2 linked regions of the Homo sapiens genome follow. The protein of the gene in region 1 purifies or fractionates together with the protein of each later gene. This does not show direct contact. Each region holds a gene or a part of one and is shown in the gene's direction. Other genes may lie near its edges. The genes, in order: SBNO1 and ARL6.

Region 1 (3,826 bases):
CAGATGATAGGCTGTTTAACCAATGTGTTTTTTTTTGTTTTTGTTTTTAATTGAAGCAGGGTCTTACTCTGTCACCCAGACTGGAGTACAGTGGTGTGATCTTGGCTTACTGCAACCTCTACCTCCCAGGTTCAAGGAGTCCTCCAGACTCTGCCTCCTGAGTATCAGGGACTGCAGGCGCATGTCAATGTGCCTGGCTGATTTTTGTATTTTTTGGTAGAGATGAGGTTTTACAGTGTTGCCCAGCCTGATCTGGAACTCCTGGGCTCAAGCAATCCACCTGCCTCAGCCTCCCAAAGTGCTGGGATTACAGGCATCAGCCACTGCGCCTGGCCTAACCAATGTTCTTATATTTCAGATTGTCCATGTTTTCATTTTGTTAAGGTAATTCATAAGTTATAGCCATTTATTTCAGTTGCATAGTTCTTAAAATCACATTATTTTCTAAAATGACTGCATTAGGTAATAAGAAACTTGAGACAACTGTGTGAGTATCCTGAGAAATAGATTCCCAAGTTACTAAAGATGATTTATTAAATTAATATTAAATGGTCTTGCACTTAACATTGTTTTGATTTAATTGGTATTTTTAAATAACTAGACTCAAAGATGAAGTGTCTGAAATGTTGATTATGTATCTTCAGTGGGTCATCGCCAGAGAGCGGTTTCAGCAAGCTGCAGATCTGATTGATGCTGAGCAACGAATGAAGAAGTCCATGTGGGGTCAGTTCTGGTCTGCTCACCAGAGGTTCTTCAAATACTTATGCATAGCATCCAAAGTTAAAAGGGTTGTGCAACTAGCTCGAGAGGAAATCAAGAATGGAAAAGTAAGTAGAAGAACTCATTAAGAGATTGTTTGGGGGTTATGTTGTTTAGTCTTTGTGGGTGCTGAGGTTTTCTGCTTGTAAAATCTGGTTTTCCTAAAGGATAGTAAAACTTCTAAAAAATACATTTCTTAAAATTATAAAAGCAATGCCTGCTTAGAGAATTTAGAGAGTTCAGAAAAGTATAACAAAGTAAACATCACTATAATTGGTCATCCATAGCTGGTAGCACTGGTAACATATGGATGTGTATTGCGTTAAGGTTTTTTCTTTTCGGTGAATATTTATCTACTTAAAGCATAAGATACTATAAACTGTACAAGGGCAGGGGCTTCACTCATGCTTACTACTGTCTGTAATCCTATCTCCTGCCTAAATTTTTGACAAATAACCTGTCTCAAATATGTAGAAGAAATAAGTAAAACAAATTTGTGTTTTATAATAATGAGGACATTCTTGTTTGAAATCTTTGTTTAGCTAAATGTTTAAAATATGTCTTGGTAAGAAGCCACAAACATTATTATTCATAATTAACATGTTTTCTTTTTTCTCCAGTGTGTTGTAATTGGTCTGCAGTCTACAGGAGAAGCTAGAACATTAGAAGCTTTGGAAGAGGGCGGGGGAGAATTGAATGATTTTGTTTCAACTGCCAAGTAATGTTTTTGTTCTTTTAATGTTTTTGTTTCTTTTTGAGTTCTTCCTTACCTTAGTTCCAATGTGGGCATTTCCTGGAGACAAAACTTTTGTTTCACCTGCATCATCTTTAAGTTTTCTTGATCTGAGTTTTCTGCTTTTCTGTAACAGTGTATCTATTGGAAAACAATAACAGAAATCTCATAATCCTAAAATGTTAAGCATTTTGCTAATATTACACAGAGTATGTGAACTAACAGAAGGGCTAGACTTTGTTTATCTTGTACATCTTGGAAATCTGTGACAGCTTGGCTTAGATTCAGTTTTAGTGTACTGTATTTGAAATTACCGTTATCCACAGGAACAGTAACTATAGTTTGTCCTAATATAACGAAGTCTACTTTATAAGTTGGCTGAGCATGGTGGCTCACAGCTGTAATCTCAGCACTTTGGGAGGCCAACATGGGCACATCACTTGAGGTCAGTAGTTTGAGACCAGCCTGGCCAAAATGGTGAAACCCCATCTCAACTAAAAATAAAAAAAATTAGTTGGGCATGGTGGCACACGTCCTGTAGTCCCACCTACCTGGGAGGCTGAGGCAGGAGAATCCATTGAACCCGTGAGGTGGAGGTTGCAGTGAGCCAAGATCGCACCACTCCACTCCACTCCCCTCTGGGCGGCAGAGTGAGACCCTGTCTCAAAAAAAAATAAAATAAAATAAAGTCTACTTTAAAAGTTGAAAATAAGCATGAGATCTTCAGAAATAGATTTTAAAATGTTTTAGGCATTGTTTTTAGTTTGCCTAACCTCCACATTCAAACTCTGGTAGTAAACTGAGCAAAATAAACTTGCTGCTCTACTATTTTGTGCCTCGGGATGCATTCAGATGCTCCTTTCAAAAGCAATACATGGGGCTCACGCCTGTAATCCAGGCACTTTGGGAGGCTGAGTCTGGTGGATCACGAGAGCTCAGGAGTTTGAGACCAGCCTGGCCAACACGGTGAAACCTCGTCTCTACTAAAAATACAAAAACTAGCCAGGCGTGGTGGCGGGCACCTGTAATCCCAGCTACTGGAGAGGCTGAGGCAGGAGAATTGCTTGAACCCAGGCGGCGGAGGTTGCAGTGAGCTGAGATGGCACCATTGCACTCCAGCCTGGGTGACAGAGAGACTCGGTCTCAAAAAAAAAAAAAAAAAGAAAAAAGCAAGACATACACCTGCTAATCTATATTTTTCTGTACATAATTGCCTAGAACTACCGTGTCCAGAATGGCAGCCGCTTGTCACATGTGGCTATTGAGCAGTTGAAATGACTGGTCCATATTGAGATGTTATTATATGTGTACTGAGCCAGGTTTCAAAGACTCCTTAAGAGAAAATAACATAAAACATATGTGTTGACATGGTATATTGAGTTAAAATGTATTATTAAAATTAGTTCCACCAGTTTTATTTATTTTTTACTTTTTTAATTTAAGCTACCAGAAAATACAATAATTGTGTATGTGGTTTGGCTTGCATTCTTATTATTTAGTTGGACAGCTTTGGGCTAGAAAATTAAAATTTATTTGAGCTCGTTTATCAGTATTTTGTAAAACTGAACAAAGTATATTTCAATATATTTAATAATACTTTACATATAATTATTTTGTCAACTGAAGCAGTAATTGTCACTGTTTCTCTCCTACAGAGGTGTGTTGCAGTCACTCATTGAAAAACATTTTCCTGCTCCAGACAGGAAAAAACTTTATAGTTTACTAGGAATCGATTTGACAGCTCCAAGTAACAACAGTTCGCCAAGAGATAGTCCTTGTAAAGAAAATAAAATAAAGAAGCGGAAAGGTGAGCACTTTAAAAAAGAAAAAATAGGCCAGGTGCGGTGGCTCACACCTGTAATCCCAGCACTTTGGGAGGCTGAGGTGGGCAGATCACGAGGTCAGGAGATCGAGACCATCCTGGCTAACACGGTGAAACCCCATCTCTACTGAAAATACAAAAAATTAGCCGGGCATCGTGGTGGGCACCTATAGTCCCAGCTACTCGGGAGGCTGAGGCAGGAGAATGTCGTGAACCCAGGAGGCAGAGCTTGCAGTGAGCCGAGATAGCGCTGCTGCACTCCAGCCTGGATGACAGAGCGAGACTCTGTCTCAAAAAAGAAAAAGAAAAAAGAAAATAGTTGACGTTGAAAATACTGTTGAAATTAAAACATAAGCATTTTAAAGTGGCTATATTTTGGGAATGAACTGCCTTCCATGAATTCACAAATGGTTCCAAATTTTCACTGTCACTTGTACAATTTTGAATGCACAAGTTATCCCCGTTTTAAATTAGGAATTGAGCAATTCACTGGTGGTTGGCAGTGTGTTAAG
Region 2 (3,826 bases), on another chromosome or scaffold:
AAATCTGTCTGCTTTTCAGATCTGCCTTCTACTTTCTGCCTTCTACATGAACCCCATTGCCCATTCATTGTTTCAGATTTTCTGGAAAGGCTACGGCCTAATTCTTCCATATTTTCAAGTATCACAATTCGCAGACTCCAAATGATACTGAGGCTGACCATGTTTTATTCTTAAATATGATAAATTACAGAGAGAAATGTTGTTATTTCCAAGGCATTGTTCTGTGTTGCCACCTGTTATAAGCTGCAAATCTGCGTGTCAGTTAAGGCTCCTTTCTGGTAATCAGCTTACACTGTGTTTACTAAGTGCAAAGCTACATTGACATAGTTTTCACACTATTATTATGTGTATTTAAATTATTACCTTTTTTTAATACACCTACCAATATTTTCCATAACTTAAGGTGCCTTTGGGTAATATTTTATTTTTTCTTAATTGCAGCTGGTTTGTAAATATTTGAATCACATTATGGGATTGCTAGACAGACTTTCAGTCTTGCTTGGCCTGAAGAAGAAGGAGGTTCATGTTTTGTGCCTTGGGCTAGATAATAGTGGCAAAACGACGATCATTAACAAACTTAAACCTTCAAATGTAAGTATCTTTGTTAGATGCTTTATGTATTTTCTGCTACTAAAGAAAATTAATGTGCAGAATTATGTTATATGACGTTAAAACCGCATATAATCACATTAAGATATTCTGTTAACCTTTCAGTACCTTTAAGTATCCTCAGCCATAATTTGCAGTATATTTTACACAGTAAATTTTAATTATTAAACTGGAATATTATTTTCAAATGTCTTTTCTTTCAAAAGTTCTTCACAGATTTACTGAGTTTACTTTAAATGTCATTGCCTTCTTTTTAGTTTCCTCCTTACAGGAGGAGCAAAACAGAGAAAGGTGAAACATTTTTATAGGTTCTATGGATAATTAGACAATTTTTGAAAGTATAGTATGCATATTAGTAATAGTAAGCAAGATGATTTTAAGCAACAAGTGTATGGACATATTGTAATAACTGAAAAATATATAAAGCTAGCACATTTAACATGTGATGTATAAGTTAAAGTTAAAGTCTGCTGCATATAAAGAAAGCCTATCTAATAGGGCTTTCCTAATTTCTGGCACCAATTCCTGAGCCTTTATGTTTGGACAACTCTCCTGCCTTATCAGAAAAACTGACCTCCAGGTCCAGAGAAAAGTGATTGGCTTTGCTTTTTTTTCTTTTTTTTATGGTAATGGTAACAGCCAAGGAGCCACTTGAAATGGGACTTCTTGAGGGGTTTCAAACCTCTGTCACTCAGTTATAGATGTAGATACAACACTTGCTCCCTTCCTACACCAAGCTCAAGAAGAGTCTCTTGTAAGCTTACATCCACTACTAGAACATTATTTTTAAGGAATTAAATAAAATAAGTACAGAAATGTACAATGCTGTGATAGGAAATGCCTTGCAAAAAAATAGTGCCCATCTCATTTTATAGTAAAATTGTCTCATTTTTGTGGATAAAATCAGTTTCTAGGTAAGTAGTTCTTTCCTGGACACAAACTAGTTTTTCATATTAAGCTATCTTTATGTTTATTTATTGTTAATGTACTGAGGTTGCTGGCATTTTAGAATAGGGAGAGAGGGAGGACATTTTAATCTGATCGCTTTTTTCAAGAATCTAGTCTTAGCTGTCATTTTTTTAGAGATAGACTCTATATACCTTTTTCAAAAATTTCAATCTTTATTCCACTACCAATCTTTATTGTCACATCATCCAGTTTTTATATCATTTTTTATTGATACAAATTTAGGGGTTACATGTGATAGTTTGATACATGCATACAATGCATAATAAATCAGAGTCACTGGGATATCCATCACCTCAAAAATTTATCTTTTTTGTATGTTCAGAACATTCTAATTCTTCTTTTCTGGCTATTTTGAAATATCCAGTAAATTATTGTTGACTATAGTCACTCTACTGAATTATCAAACACTAAGTCTTATTCCTTTATCTAACTGTATTTTTATACCTATTAATGAACCTCTCTCCACCCCTCTCTCCGCCCTACCCTTCCCAGCCTCTGGTAACCACCTACTCTATGTCTCTATGAGATCTACTTTTTCAGATCCCACAAACAAGTGAGAACATGTGATACTTGTCTTTCTGGACCTGGCTTATTTCACTTAACTTAATGACCTTCAGTTCTCTCCATATTGCTGCAAATGACAGGATTTCAGTCTTTTTTATGGCTGAATAATATTTCATTGTGTATATGTACCAAATTTTCATTATCCATACATCCATTGATGGACAAAAGTGTATTCCATATCTTGGCTATTGTGAATAGTGGTGCTATAAACTTGGGAGTGCAGGTATCTCTTTGATACATTGATTTCCATTTTTTTGGATATATTCCCACAGTGGGATTGCTGGATCTTATGGGAGTTCTATTTTTAGTTTCATGCGGAAACACTATACTGTTTTCCATAGTGGCTACACTAATTTGCATTCCCACCAACAATCTACGAGAGTTCCCCCTTTTCTACATCTTCACCAGCATTCATTATTTTTTTGCCTTTTTTGATAAAGGCAATTTTAACTGGGGTGAAATAATATCTCATTGTAGTTTGATATATATTTTCCTGATGAATAATGATGAGCATTTTTTTCATATGCCTGTTGGCCATTTGTCTATATTCTTTTGAGAAATGTCTATTCAGATCTTTTACCCATTTTTTTAGTCAGATTTTTTGTGTTTTGTTTTTCCTTGCTACTGAATTGAGTTCCTTCTGTATTCTGGTTATTAATCCTTTGTTGAGTGGATATTATGTAAATATTTTCTGTAATTCTGTAGATTATCTCTTCACTTTGTTGATTGTTTCCTTTGCTGTGTAGAAGCTTTGTAGCTTGATATAGTCCAATTTGTCTATTTTTGCTTTTGTTACATGTGCTTCTGAGGTCTTACTGCCCAAATCAGTGTCCTGAAGCATTTTCCCTGTGTTTTCTCCTAGTACTTTGATAGTTTTGGGTCTTAGATTTAAGTCTTTAATCCATTTTTAGTTGACTTTTGTATATGGTGGGAGATAGGGGTCTAGTTTCAGTCTTCTACATGTGTTTATCCAGTGTTCCAGCATCATAAGACTATCCTTTTCCCAATGTATGTTCTTGGATGTCTTTTTGGAAAATGAGTTGGATGTAAATACATGGATTTATTTCTGGCTTCTCTGTTCTCTTCTGTTGGTCTGTGTGTGTGTGTTTATGCCAAAACTATGCTGTTTTGGTTATCATGGCTTTGTAGTATAGTTTGAAGTCAGATAGTGTGGTACCTCCAACTTTGTACTTTTTGTTCAGGATTATTTTGGCTATTTGGGGTCTTTTATGGTTTCATATAAATTTTAGGATTCTTTTTATATTTCTGTGAATGTTATTGGTATTTTGATAGGGATTGCATTGACTCTGTTAATCTCTTCGGGTGGTATAGATATTTTAACTGTGATAATTCTTTTAATCCATGAGCATAGATAGAATAGCTTTTCATGTTTTTGTGTCCTCTTCAATTTCTTTTATCAATATTTTATAGTTTTAATTGTAGAGATCTTTGGTTGGATTTATTCTTAAGTATTTTATATTTTTTATAGCTATTATATATGGGATTACTTTCTTGATTTCATTTTCAGATTGTTTGTTCTTGGTGTATATAAATGCTACTGATTTTTATATGTGGACTTTTGTATCCTGAAACTTAACTGAATCTCTTTATCAGTTCTAACAGTATTTTTGGTAGAGTCTTCAGGTTTTTCTAAATATAAGAACATGTCATCTGCAAACAAGGA

Evidence for each region.
Region 2: the proteins of SBNO1 (region 1) and ARL6 purify together in Homo sapiens (affinity purification with mass spectrometry; one large-scale study listed by BioGRID and IntAct). This does not show direct contact.

Annotation. Positions count from the first base shown.
Region 1 is NC_000012.12:123,323,153-123,326,978, reverse strand, and holds part of SBNO1 (protein strawberry notch homolog 1), read left to right. Parts: intron 1-644; coding exon 645-827; intron 828-1,379; coding exon 1,380-1,477; intron 1,478-3,147; coding exon 3,148-3,299; intron 3,300-3,826. UniProt on the Homo sapiens protein: Plays a crucial role in the regulation of neural stem cells (NSCs) proliferation. Enhances the phosphorylation of GSK3B through the PI3K-Akt signaling pathway, thereby upregulating the Wnt/beta-catenin signaling pathway and promoting the proliferation of NSCs.
Region 2 is NC_000003.12:97,767,640-97,771,465, forward strand, and holds part of ARL6 (ADP-ribosylation factor-like protein 6), read left to right. Parts: intron 1-441; 5' UTR 442-468; coding exon 469-591; intron 592-3,826. UniProt on the Homo sapiens protein: Involved in membrane protein trafficking at the base of the ciliary organelle. Mediates recruitment onto plasma membrane of the BBSome complex which would constitute a coat complex required for sorting of specific membrane proteins to the primary cilia.